Linked DNA regions of Homo sapiens: all the other regions are linked to region 4. Evidence: fine-mapped expression QTL. A gene starts in region 4. Each other region holds a variant in brackets. All regions are shown on one strand. Distances are from middle to middle. Region 1 overlaps MYT1L (myelin transcription factor 1 like). Region 2 overlaps PXDN (peroxidasin). Region 3 overlaps PXDN (peroxidasin). Region 4 holds the start of PXDN (peroxidasin).

The links. PIP is the estimated chance that this variant, and not a neighbour inherited with it, causes the effect.
Region 1: its variant is the best candidate, but not a certain one, in a credible set for the expression of PXDN in naive CD4 T cells (Schmiedel 2018, PIP 0.55).
Region 2: its variant is the best candidate, but not a certain one, in a credible set for the expression of PXDN in nasal epithelium (TOPMed, PIP 0.69).
Region 3: its variant is the best candidate, but not a certain one, in a credible set for the expression of PXDN in whole blood (TOPMed, PIP 0.64).

Annotation. Positions count from the first base shown.
Region 1 is chr2:1,808,339-1,814,058 of GRCh38, reverse strand. MYT1L (myelin transcription factor 1 like) reads left to right here. Exons shown (of 25, transcript NM_001303052.2): 22 at 4,892-4,983. Among named protein-coding and RNA genes, the nearest start is that of PXDN, 67 kb to the right of the region's middle. The variant C/T (reference allele first, on the strand shown) is at 3,204.
Region 2 is chr2:1,702,635-1,706,634 of GRCh38, reverse strand. All of the region lies in intron 1 of PXDN (peroxidasin), which reads left to right. Among named protein-coding and RNA genes, the nearest start is that of PXDN, 40 kb to the left of the region's middle. RefSeq lists enhancers at 901-1,504, 1,505-2,108. The variant GCCCTCTGCTC/C (reference allele first, on the strand shown) is at 1,508.
Region 3 is chr2:1,718,962-1,722,961 of GRCh38, reverse strand. The region is part of intron 1 of PXDN (peroxidasin); the gene reads left to right. Among named protein-coding and RNA genes, the nearest start is that of PXDN, 24 kb to the left of the region's middle. The variant C/T (reference allele first, on the strand shown) is at 1,651.
Region 4 is chr2:1,742,383-1,747,797 of GRCh38, reverse strand. It overlaps PXDN (peroxidasin), which reads left to right and starts at 3,283. Exons shown (of 23, transcript NM_012293.3): 1 at 3,283-3,542. The coding sequence starts at 3,343.

The DNA.
Region 1 (5,720 bases), 66 kb before region 4:
GCTAATTTTTCTTTCTTTTTTTTTTTTTTTTGGGGACGGAGTCTCGCTCTGTCGCCCAGGCTGGAGTGCAGTGGCGCGATCTCGGCTCACTGCAAGCTCCGCCTCCCGGGTTCGCGCCATTCTCCTGCCTCAGCCTCCCGAGTAGCTGGGACTACAGGCGCCCGCTACCACGCCCGGCTAATTTTTTGTATTTCTAGTACAGACGGGGTTTCACCGTGTTAGCCAGGATGGTCTCGATCTCCTGACCGCGTGATCCGCCCGCCTCGGCCTCCCAAAGTGCTGGGATTACAGGCGTGAGCCACCGCGCCCGGCCGGAAGCTAATTTTTCTACAGAAAAGGGGTGGGATGGTTTCTGGATGAAACCGTTCCACCTGGGATCACCAGGATTAACTTCTAAGGAGCCCGCAGCCCGGACCCCCTCGCAGGCGCAGTTCTCAGTAGCGTTTGCGCTCCTGGGAGAATCGAATCCCGCCGCTGACGTGTCGGGAGGCGGAGCTCAGGTGAGAATGCTCGCCCGCCCACTGCCCACCTCCACCTGTACGGCCCGGTTCCTCACAGGCCACGGCCGGGAGTTTGGGGACCCCTGCTCTAGGAAATATTCCAGCATCGGCAGCTGCTCTCAGAGAAGCTGCTGGAAGCTCTCCTGGGGGAGTGGGGGCAATCACAGCTGTGCCCCTGGGGCCATTTCTCAGCTGTGGGATGGAACGGATGGGACCCAGGCTGAGGCCCAGGGGCCTCGCTGAGGGAGAAAGAAGCACAGACCTGGACTGAAGTGATGAAGAGAAGGGAGGGGGTTCAGGCGCAAACAGCAGAGGCTGCTCGCTGGGAGGACGGCAAGGAGGAGGAGGCGTGCCTTTGTGGCCCTCCCTCTCTCCCCCCCACCTGCAGCTCCTGGCCCCTCAATGCCATTCGCAAACACAGGGAAAGTCGAAAGGGCTGCGGAGGTTCAGACGGCGGAAGGCCAGAGAGGTTCAGCGGGGGAAAGATGGGAGCTGCTCCCTGCATTTGTGAGGATCATACTGAGCCGGGCTGGGCCACACGCACCGTGGACCGACCAGGCGTCACCCTTGTCCTACAGTCACAGTCTTAGGACCTCTGCAGGAGGCCCTCACCCCAGCCCTCCTCTCATCTTAACCCAGGGCGGCAGCTGCATTCAAGAGTCTTTTTTTTTTTTTTTTTTTTTGAGACGGAGTCCTGCTCTGTCACCCAGGCTGGAGTGCAGCAGTGCGATCTCGGCTCACTGCAACCTCTGCCTCCCGGGTTCAAGAGATTCTCCTGCCTCAGCCTCCCAAGTAGCTGGGATTATAGGCACCTGCCACCACGCCCAGCTAATTTTTGTATTTTTAGTAGAGACAGGGTTTCACCATGTTGGCCAGGCTGGTCTGGAACTCCTGACCTCATGATCTGTCCGCCTCGGCCTCACAAAGTGCTAGGATTACAGGCATGAACCACCGCGCCCGGCTAAGAGTCTTCTCTTAACTTGGAAGTCCTGCAAAATCCTGCCGCAGGCCTCTTTGAGGGCTCAGTCTGCACCTTCCAGAGCCTGGGTGCACTCACACTCACCCTGGGCCTCCACTCACTGAGCCATCACAAAGTGCATTCAGACATTTTATGCTTTCAGAAGTCGTCACTGGGCACCTATTCCATCTCCAGCACTCTCCCATCATGGGGATACAGAGCAGTGAACAAAAAAGTGCATTTTAATCCTTGCCCTCAAGAATACACATTCTTTTCATTAAACTTCACAAACACAGTCAATTCAATATTTTATTCTCATTTCATAAGTGAGCAAACAGGACTGCCTAAGTCTTTCCTAGCCAGTTCCACGTCTTATGTGCGTTAGAGCATCAGGGGGTGCGGTGTGAGGTCCAGTGGGCCTCCTGGTCTCACAAAGGACTTGCCAGATGTAGTCACCTGACTGCAGAGTCTACCTGGATGCGGGGGCCAAAGCGCAGACACACCTGCAGGAAGATGTGTGTGACAGCCACAGTGTGTCCAGTGGCAGGAAGGGGAAAAGTGGCGTTAACATCCAAGCATCCTATTTTAGGAGAGCCTTAACAGATCTTTTGAGAACTTCTTATTTTACAAATGAAAATATCCAGCTCGCCTTCAGAAGCAGATTTACGGATAAGCTAGGGAAGCAGAAGTGTCAGCCCCCACCCCAGCCGGATTTGCAGGGCGTCCTGCTGGGATCTGATGGGGAGGCAGGAGAAGACCCAGGAGGGTGCCCCGGAGTGGGGACGACTGCCAGGTTGTTGCCCAGGCCCCATCAGGGAGGACTGAAGAGGAGCCTGTTCCCTCCGGAACGCGAGGGGTTCGTTCACGCCCCACACTAAAGACAGCTTGAGTAGCACAGGGATTTCCGGTGTAAACAGCAGCAGGCAGGGTGAGAGGATCCATCAGAAGCAGCAGTGCCAATGTCTAGTAACAAATAAATGAACAAAAAAACAGCAAAGGGAACCACGAGCCAGGACCCCCTCAGGGACTGTCCGGATTCCTGGGGATGCAGTCAGGGCAAGCAGGAGAAGCCAGGGCGCCCACCGTGCCCACCCTGTCAGGCCACCCAGTTCCCAGAGGCCTCTCTGCTCCTGGGGCTTCCCGTGCGGCTTGCCCTGGGATGGGATAGGACGCGGGAGCTGATGATGCTGGAGCTGATGACGCCAGAGCTGATGACGCCAGAGCTGATGATGCTGGAGCTGATGACGCTGGGGTTAAAGTCCCCGCTGCTCCTTCTCCCACTGAACCTAGGAACATCATCAGCAAACACAGCAGTTCACAGCCACAGAGTTGTGGTATGAGCAACAAATACTGGTGATTGTCTTAGACGTTCCAGGGCTGCAAAAACAAATACCATACCTTGGGCAGCATAGAAACCAGAAATTTATTCCTCCAAGTTCTGGAGACTGGAAGTCCGAGACCGAGGCACCAGCAGATTCGGCATCTGGCAACTGCTGCTCTCTGGTTGGTGGACGACGCCTTCTCACTCTGTCCTCACATGGGAGAAGGGGTTAAGGAGCTGTCTGGGTCCCTGTTATAAGGGCACGGATCCCATCACGAGGCCTCCTCACTTCCCATACGCCCCTTCTCCTAACACCATCCCGGTGGGGGTCAGGATTTCAGTGCACGAGTTTTCAGGGGACACAGTCAGGCAACAGCAATGATTATTTAGAATTTTATGAATATTCTATTATAATTATGAGATG[C/T]AAACATCACATCAAAAAAATAACAACTTAGACCTGTGGTGTGGATGAAGAATACTGGAAATATTTTTATACAAAGATAGGATTTCCCCAAAAACAACCACTAATATCCCCAGTTGAAAATGTATTACGATCAAGTTCTTCTGCTATGAATTTTCCTGTTTTCTTAAATTTTAAAAGAAAATGTATTACAAAAATAATATTTAGAAAGCTTAATTATATTAATGCAGATATTAGAGATATTTCTAATAATGATGTAATCTGCCTGCACTAGTAAAGAGTGTTTCTAGATATATCACTAACACATCATCACACCACTTACGGACACGGTCCATCTAACACTTCATATACAGGTGAAATACAATATTATGTATAGAGAGAATAAACACATATGTCATATACATATATAAAACATTATAGGCGGGGTGCGGTGGCTCATGCCTGTAATCCTAGCACTTTGGGAGGCCAAGGCGGGCAGATCACCTGAGGTCAGGAGTTGAAGACCAGCCTGGCCAATATGGTGAAACCCTGTCTCTACTAAAAATACAAAAATTAGCCAGGTGTGGTGGCACACACCTGTAATCCCAGAGGCTATAATTCTGTAATCGGGAGGCTGAGGCGGGAGAATCACTGGAACCCAGGAGGCAGAGGCTGCAGTGAGCCGACATCGGGCCACTGCACTCCAGCCTGGGTGACAGAGCAAGACCCTCTCAAAAAAAAAAAAAAAAAGCGTTATATATAGAAGTTTTTCACCTCACCCATAGTTAAGTGCCAGATGGCCCCTGGCCTTTAGCACAGTGAGGACTCCAGTTGACCAGCACGTCCAGGAGCCCCTGGAAGGGAGGGAAGGCCCCTCGGAGACTGAGGAGTTGTGAGGAAGCCGAGGCACGGGACTGCATGGAAGAGGCGCTCCGCACACAGGACACGCCATCTTCAGCAAACACCCAACAGGACAGAAAAGGAGGCAGAGGTGCCTTCCTGCCCCGGAGGCTGCCAGCCACATCTGCCACATACACTGTGAAGAGCTGAGACGCATCCTGACGTCGACAAACCAGTGGCTGAGAAAAGTGAAGAGACACCTGGAAAGTTTGAAAACAGACTGAATAGCTGCTGATACTAGAAAACTGGCTAAAAATTGTAAGTGAGATAAGGAGATTGCAGTTATGTTTTCACCTTTGAGACTGGGGAAGCAGGAGGGGCACAGGTGACTAGCCTTGAGAGATAACAGCTGAATTTGGGGTGAGTTCATTATTCTGCTGTCTCTACTTTTGTATATTTGAAATTAACTTTTAAACCCAACCTTTCTATGAGCTTGATGCTTTCCATAATAAAGATTTTTAAGCAATATTATCACTCTACAAAAGTTCCAAAAAGCTCTGAAAGTTATACAATGAAGGGCAGATTTCCTCTGCTCTCAGAGCCCCAGCTCCCAAGACCCCCCGCCAAGAGGCAGCCCCAGCCGAGCACCCATGATCAGTGCTCACCACATGCATGAGTGCACACACATGCACCCCATGTGTGCATAACTGTCATACTGTATGCATTGGTCTTTTTGCTTTTTCTCATTTTCAGACAGCCTTTTGCTGGCAACCAACCTAATAATGCTATTCTACGCCTTGCTTACCACCACTTCCCTGCAGGGCTGGGACATTAGACAGTTGACTAATGGCCGTCCTGTGTCTTGTCCACAGCTTGTCAGGATGCCCGAGAGCCACGTCAGCGATGAAGAAGGCAAAGCTTTCTGGAGAGCAGATGCTGACCATCAAACAGCGGGCCAGCAACGGTGAGCACCCCTCCAGCCCTCGTGGCACCCATGGTCAGGAAGGCCCAGCGGGCACGGCCATGCCAGCTGTGTGTCCTTTGACAGTTACAGCTCACTTTTCTTAGAAAGCAGGGGCAGAGATAATTCTGGCCCTCTCATCTATAAAGCGAAGCAACTTGAGAAAAAGCAGTCTTTCTCAAAACCGTCTCCCACCTTCACCGATTTCACTGCTCACCGGAATCATGAGCCCAAGTCCTGAGGGTCTCTCCAGCACTGGACGATTTACTCCCTGGAACCCCAGTGTGCCCACATTTCTGCCTGTGTCCCTCAGGCCCTCATCCAGGGTTTCTCCACCCAGGAGCAGCTTTGGGGCCACCCCAGGCCACAGATAACAAGGATGGCACCCCCTCCCCTGTCGCCCTCACTCTCTGCATGTCTGGTGCCTGATTTTCTTGATTCCACCTGCAAATCTGTTTTGTTCTGAGGGTCTCTCTTGTCACCAACCAGCACAGGTGTGTAGAGAGTTCTGCAGAGGAAAACTGGGGGCCTCTGGAGGAGCAGGAGAGAGGAGAGCCACTTAAGCCCTTAGAAACATCCACAGTCCACCCTCATGATCTGGGGACTCTATTTGCGAGGTCACCTCCCTGCCGAAATTAATTTGTAGACGCAGGCAATGATCTCAGTGCTTTTGTAGTTAGTCCTGTGCACTCGCAGAGCAGCTGAAGTGTCTGGTGTTCCTAAGGGCAGGGGGCTGTGAT
Region 2 (4,000 bases), 40 kb after region 4:
GTATTATTAGTGGGGCAGGCGATGCTTAGAGCTGATTGGTGAACACTGAAGCGTGCTCTCAGATTGTATTATTAGTGGGGCAGGTGATGTTTAGAGCTGATTGGTGAACACTGAAGCGTGCTCTCAGATTGTATTATTAGTGGGGCAGGTGATGCTTAGAGCTGATTGGTGAACACTGCAGCGTGCTCTCAGGTTGTATTATTAGTGGGGCAGGTGACTGGCTTCTGGCAATGCCAGCAGGATGTAAGATTCTGTGGCTTGCAGTGAGACCGTGTCCGATTTGTGACTTAAACAGTTGTTACTGCACTTGCTCCCTGGAGGACTTGATATCACATGGAGGCAGGACTGTGACCCAGTGAATACCAGGCTGCCAGTGGGACAGGGAAGCCCCACCCTCCCAGATAGATCTTTAGGTGCTGGACAGACCAGCTCCCAATTTCATAGAATAACCCGGGAGCTCCTAACTCTCACTGAAGGTCAGAGACGCTGGGACGGTCTCTGGGTTTGAGAGCCCAGGAATCGGAGGGCAGGGTAGAACTTGAATCTGGCATCCAGTCGGATCCAAGTTCTCGCTCTGACTGAGGTCTGGAGACCCTGAAGAAGCTGGATCAGAGAAGCCAGTAGCCTTGACGGTGTCCAAGCCACATGGATGCCTGAGCGGCAGGGCCTGGAGTGCCTGGGGGAGGCCGTAATGGACGGAGAACTGCTCCTTGTAGCCCCACACTCCACGCGGGAAACTCTCCAAAAGGGCTGGTGACACTCCACGCGTCCCAGGTCGTGGGCAGCCGTGCCCTGCACCCTGCGTCCCAGGTCATAGGCAGCCGCACCTGCATCCCAGGTCGTGGGGAGCTGCACCCTGCATCCTGTGTCCCAGGTCATGGGCAGCCGCACCTGCATCCCAGGTTGTGGGGAGCTGCACCCTGCACCCTGCATCCCAGGTCACGGGGAGCTGCACCCTGCACTCTGCACCCTGCGTCCCAGGTCACAGGGAGCTGCACCCTGCACCCTGCGTCCCAGGTCGTGGGGAGCCGCACCCTGCACCCTGCGTTCCAGGTCATGGGGAGCTGCATCCTGCACTCTGCGTCCCAGGTCGTGGGCAGCTGCACTCTGTACCCTGCATCCCAGGTCGTGGGGAGCCGCACCCTGCACCCTGTGTCCCAGGTCGTGGGCAGCTGCACCCTGCATCCCAGGTCATGGGGAGCTGCATCCTGCACCCTGTGTCCCAGGTCATGGGGAGCTGCACCCTGCACCCTGCATCCCAGGTCGTGGGGAGCCGCACCCTGCATCTGGGCTCATGGGGAGTGGCACATGGCTGCCTCCTACATTCACCCCTCCCAACCCCAGCCTTCATGGAGGGAGTGTCTTCAGTGGGTCATGTGGGTTTGGGAGTGAACTGAGCCGGTCTGCCTCTCCCTCAGGGGAGGCCCAGGGCCCCTGGGATGTGTGCAGACATGCTCTGCTCTCACGGCTCCGGGGAGGCCCAGGGCACTGGGATGTGTGCAGACGT[GCCCTCTGCTC/C]TCACGGCTCTCACGTGATGGGCAGTGCCGGGCGACATCAGGGTTGAGCTCTTAGTACTGTTGTCTTTTTTTCTGTAACTTCAGTTAATTTTTAGTTGGTTACTAACTAGCTCGTGTGTGCATCCTCTCATTACATCCTCAGAATACACTGACGGATGATGCATCATCTGCTCTTATTAATGTCATGTGATAATGGTTGCTCCCCAAGACTTGTATGAAAAGAAAGTAAGTCTTGGGACCCCCAAATCACTAAGTTAAAGGGAAGAGTCAAGCTGGGAACTGCTCAAGGCAAAGCTGCCTCCCATTGTATTCAAAGCCACCCTCTGCTCACCGAGACATGCATATCTGACTGCATCCCTTGGAAAAGATCATCAGAAACTCAAGACAGTGCAGCCATTTGTCTCTTATCTACCTGTGACCTGGAAGCTCCCTCCCCTCTTGGAGTTGCCCCCCCTTCACCTGGAGCTGCCCCCCCTTCACCTGGAGTTGTCCCCCCCTTTACCTGGAGCTGCCCCCCTTCACCTGGAGCTGTCCCCCCTTCACCTGGAGTTGCCCTCCCTTCACCTGGAGTTGCCCCCCTTCACCTGGAGTTGTCCCCCACCTTCACCTGGAGTTGCCCTCCTTCACCTGGAGTTGCCCCCCCCTTCACCTGGAGTTGCCCCCCTTCACCTGGAGTTGTCCCCTACCTTCACCTGGAGTTGCCCTCCTTCACCTGGAGTTGCCCCCCCCTTCACCTGGAGTTGCCCCCCCTTCACCTGGAGTTGTCCCTCTTTCACCTGGAGTTGTCCCCCGCTTCACCTGGAGTTGTCCTTCCTTCACCTGGAGCTGTCCCCCGCTTCACCTGGAGCTGTCCCCCCCTTCACCTGGAGTTGCCCCCCTTCACCTGGAGTTGCCCTCCCTTCACCTGGAGTTGTCCCCCACCTTCACCTGGAGTTGCCCTCCTTCACCTGGAGTTGCCCCCCCTTCACCTGGAGTTGCCCCCCTTCACCTGGAGCTGTCCCCCCTTCACCTGGAGTTGCCCTCCCTTCACCTGGAGTTGCCCCCCTTCACCTGGAGTTGCCCTCCCTTCACCTGGAGTTGCCCCCCTTCACCTGGAGTTGTCCCCTACCTTCACCTGGAGTTGCCCCCCCTTCACCTGGAGTTGTCCCCTACCTTCACCTGGAGTTGCCCTCCCTTCACCTGGAGTTGTCCCCCACCTTCACCTGGAGTTGCCCTCCTTCACCTGGAGTTGCCCCCCCTTCACCTGGAGTTGCCCCCCTTCACCTGGAGCTGTCCCCCCTTCACCTGGAGTTGCCCTCCCTTCACCTGGAGTTGCCCCCCTTCACCTGGAGTTGCCCTCCCTTCACCTGGAGTTGCCCCCCTTCACCTGGAGTTGCCCCCCCCTTCACCTGGAGTTGCCCCCCCTTCACCTGGAGCTGTCCCCCGCTTCACCTGGAGCTGTCCCCCCCTTCACCTGGAGTTGCCCCCCTTCACCTGGAGTTGCCCTCCCTTCACCTGGAGTTGCCCTCCCTTCACCTGGAGTTGCCCCCCCTTCACCTGGAGTTGTCCCCCACCTTCACCTGGAGCTGCCCCCCCTTCACCTGGAGCTGTCCCCCCTTCACCTGGAGTTGTCCCCCCTTCACCTGGAGTTGCCCCCCCTTCACCTGGAGTTGTCTCTCCTTCACCGGGAGTTGTCCCCCGCTTCACCTGGAGTTGTCCCTCCTTCACCTGGAGTTGTCCCTCCTTCACCTGGAGCTGTCCCCCACTTCACCTGGAGCTGTCCCCCCCTTCACCTGGAGTTGCCCTCCCTTCACCTGGAGTTGCCCCCCTTCACCTGGAGTTGTCCCCTACCTTCACCTGGAGTTGCCCCCTACCTTCACCTGGAGTTGCCCCCCCTTCACCAGGAGTTGCCCCCCCCTTCACCTGGAGTTGTCCCTCTTTCACCTGGAGTTGTCCCCCGCTTCACCTGGAGTTGTCCCTCCTTCACCTGGAGCTGTCCCCCCTTCACCTGGAGCTGTCCCCCCTTCACCTGGAGTTGTCCCCCCTTCACCTGGAGTTGCCCCCCTTCACCTGGAGCTGCCCTCCCTTCACCTGGAGCTGCCCCCCCTTCACCTGGAGCTGTCCCCCCTTCACCTGGAGTTGTCCCCCCCTTCACCTGGAGTTGTCCCGCCTTTCTAGACTGAACTAAATTCATCTTACATATATTGATTGATGTCTCGTGCCTCCCTAAAATGTATAAAACCAAGCACTTTGAGAGGCCGAGGTGCGTGGATCACCTGAGGTCAGGAGTTCGAGACCAGCTTGGCCAACTCGGTGAAACCTCATCTCTAAAAATACAAAAAATTAGCTGGGCGTAGTGGCGGGTGCCTGTAGTCCCAGCTACTCGGGAGGCTGAGGCAGGAGAATTGCTTGAACCTGGGAGACGGAGGTTGCAGTGAACCGAGATCACGCCAGTGCACTCCAGCCTGGGCGACAGAGCGAGACTCTGTCTCAAAACAAAACAA
Region 3 (4,000 bases), 24 kb after region 4:
CATACATCTCTCCATCTAGCTACCCACCCATTCACCCATCCATCCATCCCTCACTACTGGAATCACTGTGAAGTGTCCCACAGTGGTGACAGCAGCAGGCTGTCAGGTGCTTGTGGTCCAGAAGGGGTCAGGCTGTGAGGCACACCGTGCCCTGCAACACTGTGCCCCTGGAGCCACAGCCCTGTCCCTGCTTCCTCGTACCCCCCTCCCATATTTTAAGAATAGTGTTGGAAGCCTAGCTAGAGGGTTATAGAGAAGGAGATAGCTGTGGAAGGAGCCCCACCTGTAGACGCACACCTCTTTTCTCCTAAGTTCAGAATGCACTGATTTTAAAATACAACTTTCTTATATTTTTTGAGGGGAGGTTAGAGAAGCCTCCTTTGCTGGGAAGTTCCTCAGAGTTCTGTGTCTAGCAGTCTTTTTCAACTGGTTATTGAGAAAATAAAGCTCCAAAGAAAATGATTTGGGTGAATATGTTCCCAGTTCTTCTGAGGATCACAGCCAGCTAGAATCTGGATGCTGGGATAACCCATGCATTGCACGCAATGGATTCTGCGTTGAGATTCTCCTGTTCTCAATTTCTCATGGGAGAGGGACTGCCAAGCCACCAGGACTCTGAGGACTCAGTGCCGAGAGAGGAGACTGCGTCAGCATCACAGTCCTGGGGTGAGGGAACGGCCATGCTGGCTGCTGACCGGAATAACCTGAGGTAAAGTGAAGACGTCCACGTGGAGAGCTTTCAAGAGGGACTGCTTTGGCTTAATTTTATTCTTCTTACATGTTCTATTTTGTGTCCGCTCGCTCAGAAACTTCCTGATAGTTCATCTTCAGCCCATCCATTGTCAACACCTCTCGGGTTCATTATTTCTCGCTTAACTCTGTCTTGTGGTATTTTCTCATTTATAAAACTGTCTTATTTAGCACTTTAAAAAGCGTTTCCTCATTCACTCATCAGCTTGGCTTGCCTTTCTCGCCTTCCTAACAAGTGATGTGTATGTGGGAATTCCCCTAGGTTAGATCCCCTTTGAGTCTCTTAGTAACTATTTGGTATAAATATTTCTTGATTCCATTTTATGATTCATTTCCTCAGTGGAGGTCATTAAAGCACAGCCTGATTTGAGGCTTTTATTTATTTATTTATTTATTTTGAGACGGAGTCTCTCTCTGTCTCCCAGGCTGGAGTGCAGTGGCACTGCAAGCTCCACCTCCTGGGTTCACGCCATTCTCCTGCCTCAGTCTCCCAAGTAGCTGGGACTACAGGCGCTCGCCACCAAGCCCGGCTAATTTTTAGTAGAGACGGGGTTTCACTGTGTTAGCCAGTATGGTCTTGATCTCCTGACCTCGTGATCCGCCCGCCTCGGCCTCCCAAAGTGCTGGGATTACAGGCGTGAGCCACCGCACCCGGCCAATTTGAGGCTTTTAGAAAAGCAACAAGCAAAACTCAATCTGTTTCACTAGAGCCTGGAGTCAGTTACTTCCTGGGCTTGGTTTGTGAAGAGGGGCTTCCTGCCTGCTGGTTGGCTGAATCCTGGATGAATGCCCAGTGGGATTAACATGATTCATCCATTTGTTTTGCTCAACTCAAAGAGCACACTGGGTCTTTCTGAACAGGAACCACCTCAATTAACCCGTACCGTTGTTGAAACTATT[C/T]CCGTTCAGTTGTTTGAATTCTGACACTTCTAAGTTGGCTTCATCTCAGCTGCCTGCCACATTTGCACCTTCTAAGTGAAGGAGCCCCATCCTCAGCCACGCTGCCTGCCTGCCTGTGATGCTGAATTTTATGTCGACTTGGCTGGGCCACTGCACCCAGATATGTGCTGAGACATTATTCTGGATGTTTCTGTGAAGGGGTTTTTAGAGGACAGTAACATTTAAATCTGGAGACTTTGAGTAGAGCCGACTGTCCTCTGTGGTGTGGGTGGACCTCGTCCAGTTAGTTGAAGGCCTTAACGGAATAAAGGCTGACCTCCCCGGAGCAGGAGGGAATTCCACCAGCAGAGGCGGCTTTTGGACTGGAGCTGCAGCTACCATGCTTCCCCGGGGCTGTAGCATCAGTAAGCGGCCAGCATGAGGACTGCTGTCCTGGGTCAGGCGCCCACCCAGGTCCAACCAGCTGCGGTCCGGGAGGACCAGGTCATGTGACACACATTGCGAACACTGGGTTGGTCAGGGTTCTCCAGAGAAATGGAAACCACAGGATATGTGTACGTGTGTGTGTGTGTGTGTGTGTGTGTGTGAGAGAGAGAGAGAGAGAAAGAGATGCAGAGAGAGAGAGAAAGAGATGCAGAGAGAAAGAGATGCAGAGAGAGAGAAAGAGATGCAGAGAGAGAGAAAGAGATGCAGAGAGAGCTGTATCTGAGAGGCAAAGGTGGTCGGCTGCCTCCCCAGGCTCTGGTCTGGAGCAGGTGGTGTGAGAAAGCGTGGAGCGAGGCACTCCCTGCAGACTCTGGACTTGCCAAGCCACCACCATCTCAGCCAGCTCCTTAAAATACACCTCCCTTCTGCCTCTCTTCTCACCTTCAACCCCACCTCTCTCTCTGCATCCCTCCCTCTCTCTGTGCATCTCTCTCTCTGCATCCCTCCCCTCCCTCTCTCTCTGCATCCCTCCCTCTCTCTGCATCCCTCCCTCTCTCTGTGCATCTCTCTCTCTCTGCATCCCTCCCTCCCTCTCTCTCTCTCTGCATCCCTCCCTCTCTCTCTCTCTCTCTGCATCCCTCCCTCCCTCTCTCTCTCTCTGCATCCCTCCCTCTCTCTGCATCCCTCCCTCTCTCTGTGCATCTCTCTCTCTCTGCATCCCTCCCTCCCTCTCTCTCTCTCTGCATTCTTCCCTCCCTCTCTCTCTGCATCCCTCCCTCCCTCTCTCTCTGCATCCCTCCCTCCCTCTCTCTCTGCATCCCTCCCTCCCTCTCTCTCTCTCTGCATCCCTCCCTCTCTCTCTCTCTCTCTCTACATCCCTCCCCTCCCTCTCTCTCTGCATCCCTCCCTCTCTCTGTGCATCTCCCTCTCTCTGCATCCCTCCCTCTCTCTCTCTCCCTCTCTGCATCCCTCCCTCCCTCTCTCTCTGAATCTCCCTCCCTCTCTCTCTTTCACACACACACACACACACACACACACACACACACACACAATGCACGCATGTACACACATCCTGTGGTCTCCATTTCTCTGGAGAACCCTGACCAATCCAGTGTTCACGATGTGTGTCACATGACCTGGTCCTCCTGGACCGCAGCTGGTTGGAACCGGGTGGGCGCCTGACCCAGGACAGTGGTCCATGTGCTAGTCACTGATGGTCAGGCTTAGCCCAGCCAGTGCTGTCTCCTGAGAACTTGAACTTGAAAATGTTCAGGGATTAACAGCTGGCCGTGGGGGCTGAAACTGGAGGACTGTGGTGAGAATCCAGAGAGGCCCTGGAGGCCGCTGTTAGAGGCACAGGGGTGCTAGGGAGCCAAGCAGGCAGGTCGGCGGGGACCGGCGAGGAGTTCGATGCCTCCTGCAAGGCCAGTGTCCCCTCTTAGGTTCCATGTACCCTCAAGGCACACAGGCTTTGTGTGGTTTATGTAAGGATTCGTGCTGGGGAGAGGACCCTGAGCAGGGGCACAGACCCAGGAGGGCCTGGGACAGAGCCTGGCTGGGTTGGGTGCTGCCGGCTGCTGCCTGGGGAGGGCCTTTCTCCATGGGGTGTCCTCTTAGGGGATTGCCAGGCTGTGGCTGAGGGGTGAAGGTGGGTGGCTGCCTCCCCTGGCTCTGTTCCCACACGGGGAGCAGGTGGTGTGAGAAGGTGTGGAGCAAGCCCCCTTCCGAGTAACTCAGGTGGGAGGCATGGCCGCAGGGCCCCAGGCTGGCTCGCTCGTCTAAGGAGCCATGACTGCGCCAGTGCAGCCAGCCCCTGGCCCCTGGCGTCTCAGCTCGGCTGCTGTGCCCGGTGTTTGCCTTTGCAGGGACCTTGCGTGGCTGTCAGCGTGTCCTGGGTGTGCCCCTCACATGCCATCTGCGAGGT
Region 4 (5,415 bases):
TGGCATGTGCTGGACGCAAGAGCATCTGTGGATGGAATCCAGCAGGAGAGATGGCGTCCAGTGTGAGCTGGAACAACAGGAGGGTGTGGAGAGGATCCAGGAGGAGTGATGGCATCTGCATCTGGACCCACTGGTGTGTGTGCACAGGATCCTGCGGGGTGATGGCTGAACCCACTGGCGTGTGTGCACAGGATCCTGCGGGGTGATGGCTGAACTCACTGGAGTGTGTGCACAGGATCCTGCAGGGGTGATGGCACCCGGAGTCTAATCTGAACCCACTGGAGTGTGTGCACAGGATCCCGCAGGGGCGATGGCACCCGGAGTCTGAAATGAATCCTCTGGAGTGCGTGGACAGGACCCTGCAGGGGTGATGGCATCGGAATCTGAACTAAACCCACTCGAATGTGTGCGCAGGATCCCGCAGGGGCGATGGCACCCGGAGTCTAATCTGAACCCACTGGAGAGTGTGCGCAGGATCCCGCAGGGGCGATGGCATATGGAGTTTCAGCTGGACCTACTCGAGTGTGTGGATAGAATCTTGCAGGAGAGACGACATGTAGAATGTAAACTGGACTGAGTGGAGTGTATGGAGAGAATCCTGCAGGTGAGATGGCGTGTGCAGTGGGAAGCGGACCCACTGGAATCTTTGGGTGGGACCCAAACTCAACCACTGCTATGTGTAGACAGGATCTTTGAGGAGAGATGGCATCTGCAGTGTGAACCGAACCCACTGGAGTGTATGGATAGCATCTTGCAGGAGTGATGACATCTGCAGTGTGATCTGGACTGCCTCGAGTGTGTGGGTAGGATCCTGCAAGAGTGATGGCATGTGGAGTGAGCACTGCATCCACAGGACTGTGTGGACAGCAGCCTTCAGCAGTGATGATGTCTGCTGTGTGAAGTGGAGCACTGTAGTGTGTGGGTAGGGTCCTGCAGGAGAGATGGCAACTGGAGTGTGAACTGCACCCACTTGAGTGAGAGGTTGGGATGCTGCAGGTGGATGGCATTTGGAGTGTGAACTGGACCCACTTGAGTGTATGGGTAGGGTCCTGCAGGAGAGATGGCAACTGGAGTGTGAACTGGACCCACTGTTGTGCCTGGAGAGGATCCTGCAGAAGACAAGGCATCTGCAGTGTAAACTGGGCCACTGGGGTGTGTAGCTAGAATCATGCTGGAGTAACGGCTTCTGGACTGTGAGCTGGCCCCATTAAAGTGTGTGTATAGGATCCTGCAAAAGTGATAGCCTCTGGAGTGTGAATGGGACCCACTGAGGTGTGTGGATAGGATACTGCAGGGGTGATGGTGTCTGCAGTGTGAGCTGCAGCCCTGGGGCATGTGGATAGGACTCTGCAAAGAGACAGCATCTGTGGTGTGAATGGCACCGGTGGAATGTGTAGAGAGGATCCTGCAAAAGTGATGTCCTCTAGAGTGTGAACTGGACCCACTGGAGGGTGTGGACATCGTCCTGCAGGAGAGATGGCATCTAGAGTGTGAATGGCACCTCCGGAGTGTGTGGATAGGAGCCCGCAGGAGAGAGCACATGTAGAGCGTGAACTGGACCCACTGAAATGTGTGGACAGGATTCTGCAGAAGATACGGCATCCGGAGTGTGAAATGCACCACTAGTGTGTGTGCATAGAATCCTGCATAAGTTTTGGCATCTACAGTGTGAACTGGAGTCACTGGAATGTGTGAATAGGATCTTGCAGGAGAGATGTCTGCAGTGTGAGCTGGACCCACTTCTGTGTGTGGATAGTATCCTGCAGGAGAGATGTTGTCTGCAGTGTGAGCTGGGCCCACCGGAGTGTGTGAATAGGATCCTGCAGGAGAAATGGAATCCGGAGTGTGAGCTGCATCCGCTGTAGAGGGTGGATAAAATCCTGCAGGAAAGATGGCATCTGGAATGTCAGCGGGAGCCACCGACCTCTGAGGATGCACCCCGCAGGTGTGATGCGGGGCCAGTTCCAAGGCTGGGTTAGGTTTTACCCTGGCTTCTGTGTTGTACTCTCATTCTCTTCCTCTTTCTTCTAATACCTGCTCTGGGAGGCATCAGGCCATGTCCAGTGTGCAGGCCATGGAGACCCACACGGCAAGGAACTGGAACCCCCTGCCAGCAGCCTCGGGGGTCCAGTCCTTAGATGGTGCCCTGTGGTCAGCAATGCACCTGTGACCTCCGGGCTATGTCTCGTGGTAGTTGCTTTTGTGTTTTAACATAGCAACAGGAAACTAGCCTATTACCCACCAATCCCATTCCAGGCTGCTTTCAAACGCAGCTCAGGCTAGAACACCAGCACGGGGACACAGCTGAGACTTGGGGTTTGCGACGGGAACACGCCCATGCTGTGCCTCTGAATCTGGCACCGTCACCCTGTGGCCTGGGTTCAGCAACTTGGCCTCACCTTCCTTGTCTGTGAAATTCAGACTGGGTCCTTGTGAGATGATTGGAGAGAATGTATGAACTATGTGAGAACGCCACCTTTGTGCGTATCTCACGCAGTGTCTTCCCTCCTTTCCAAAGTCTTCTGCTGTCTCTAGACACACCCGACGTGGGGGGGGGGGGTTCCCTGGGTCTCCTCCTAGGTCTGTCCCAGGAGGGCACGCACTGAAGGCCGCGAGAATCCCGGGGGCTGCATTGCGCCGCGCCAAGGACTCCACACAGGACCTTTCATTTTCCCAACTGTGCTGAGCCAGGCGGCCGGCAGAGAGCAGGTGGCTGACAGGCCCCGGGGAGCCGGACCGCCTGGGTCTAATCTTCCCGCAGACTCCCTTGCTGTGCGCTTTGGGGCTTGGGCCTCAGTTTCCTCAAAAGGAATGAGGGGCTTTTTTGGAACGTTAAATAATTTCCTACGTGGTTGCGGGTAGGGAGAAGGAGAAAGAGAGGAGCGCGCCTGCGCGCCTGGAATCGTGCCCGGATCAGAGCAAGCGCTCTAAAAGTGTTACAAACATTAAGGCGCCAACTAAAAAACCCGTAGTGAGCGCAGGCAGAAACCACGGGTAAGAGAAGTGGAGAAGCTTCGCGTAGGCCCCAGGGTCCCGAGCCCCGAGTCTCGAGCGCAGAATCAGGGGTGCCAATGCTCTCCTCCGCGCCCCCGAGCGCTCGCCTTGGCCATGCGGGCCGCCCCACCGGGATGAGGGCGCTCAGGCCGGACGCTGGGGCCCCGGGTTCTCGCCCCGCCCCGCCCTCGGGGATTCAGAGGGGCCGGGAGGAGCCTCGCGCATGTGCACAGCTGGCGCCCCCCGCCCCCCGCGCACAGCTGGGACGTGGGCCGCGGCCGGGCGGGCGCAGTCGGGAGCCGGCCGTGGTGGCTCCGTGCGTCCGAGCGTCCGTCCGCGCCGTCGGCCATGGCCAAGCGCTCCAGGGGCCCCGGGCGCCGCTGCCTGTTGGCGCTCGTGCTGTTCTGCGCCTGGGGGACGCTGGCCGTGGTGGCCCAGAAGCCGGGCGCAGGGTGTCCGAGCCGCTGCCTGTGCTTCCGCACCACCGTGCGCTGCATGCATCTGCTGCTGGAGGCCGTGCCCGCCGTGGCGCCGCAGACCTCCATCCTGTGAGTGCCGCGGGGGACGCCGGGGGCGCGGGGTCCGGGGCTTCGTGGAGATCCGGGAGCGCAGGGGTGATCGGAGGTGGGGGGCGCGGAGGGTGGAGGGGGCATCGGGCGCGCGGGGGGCCTGGGGACTTGGGACGCAGAAGGGAACCTCCGAAGGGGGACGTGGGGGGACCTGGGCGCGGGGACCCGCTGGGCCTTTGTTCGCCCTGCGGGAGACGCCGAGGGGCGGAACAGAGCGCTGTGCGCGCGGCCTTCGTAGCCGCCTTTGTTCGGAACTCGGAATCCCCGCAGGACTGGGAAGTTGTTGGAGCCTCCGGGGCTCCCCCCGCTCGCCTCCCGCCGCCCCCTCTCATGCTCCGCCGGCCTCCCGCTTCCCCCTGGTTCGCGGCCCCTCCTCCGCTCACCTTTCCCCCGCTCAGGACCCCTCGGTCCCCCTCCGCTCCCCGAGCGCGGCGCAGCCCCCTCCGTCCTCCCAGCCCCCTCCGCCCCGTTCCTCGTCCTGTTCGCTCCCCTCCTCCGCTCCTCTTCCTCCTCCCCTTCCTCCTCCTCCTCCCCTTCCTCCTCCTCCTCCCCTTCCTCCTCCTCCTCCCTTCCCCTCCTCCTCCCCCCCTTCCTTCTCCTCCCCCAGCCTCCGCCCTCTCCCCCTCCCCCGCCCCTTGGAGCGCAGTGCCCACCCCATCCCCCCGCGCCGGGGAAGCCTCCCCAGAGGAGCCTCAGTTCCCGCAGCCGCGGCGCCCCCGCTCCCAGTGCCCCCGCATCTGCCCGGAGCGTCCTCTCCTGGGGTGTCCTGGGGGCCCCGCGCTTCTCAGGGGCTTTTCCTGCGCCCGGAGCGAGCCGGGCGGCCGGGGTTCCCGAGAGGGGCCGCGCGGTAGTCTCGGGGCAGCCCGGGTCTAGATGGAGCCGGGACTCAGAGCGGGTTTCTGCCTCGGGCATTTCTCTTCTTTCGCTTCTAATCCACGCGAGCGTGTTCGCAGTTGCGCTATACGTTTAACCGGATGCGTTGCGTTGGGGTTGACACCCTGTCCTGCGGGCCGTCCCGCGTCACGGTCTCCACAGCAGGAATCCCCATCCCTCCGCCCCGCGGCTCCAGGTACCGAGATGCCGCCAGAGTTCGCTGCAGGCCTCCTGTGTTCTGAAGCGAGTCGGATTCAACATTTTCGGGATCTGTGAACGCGGGCTGCGTTTCAGGCGCCGACTCTAATTTAGTCCTGTAGCGACTTTTCTGCATGCCAAAAATAGTTTTCACGTTTCTTAGCTGAGCCAGAGGACTTTTTGGCACCAGCAAAGAGTCTGCAAAAGTTGTAAAAAAATTGAGTGAACAATTCAGGAAGTGGGCGGCCAGTGCGCCTACCTCCGAAACAAAGTGCTGGGACAGACCACGGCTCCCAGGGGTCGCCGAGTTTGCAGGCTGCTTCCTGGAGGCCCTGGGGCGGGGCGGGGGCCCGAGTTCCTCTCCTCCTCCGCAGAGAGACCAAGGCTTTCTTTCCAGAGCCCGTGAATGGTCAGCCCAGGCCGGACGACTCGGGGGCATCTCACTCAACAGCAGTGGACTTTTAGAATGGAGCCGGGTGAGGTTTCCCTGGGTCTGGATAATGTAATTCTTGCTGAGCCAGTGGAAAAATGGCACCTCAAAGATTTTTCCCATCTGGTCAGTTTCATAAAGCTTGCGGTATGTTTTGCCCCGGAATATTAATTGCTTGTTGAAAATAACATGTTAAAATAAGTGTCGTAGGACACACATGGGGTCCTCTGCTCCGCTTTGCATGGTGTGCTCGTCCACAAACGCCTCACCGAATTTGAAAAAGGAGCTGAGAGTAGACGGGTGACATCATCGTCCACTCGCACAACACTTCCTCATAGGGTACATTTGCAT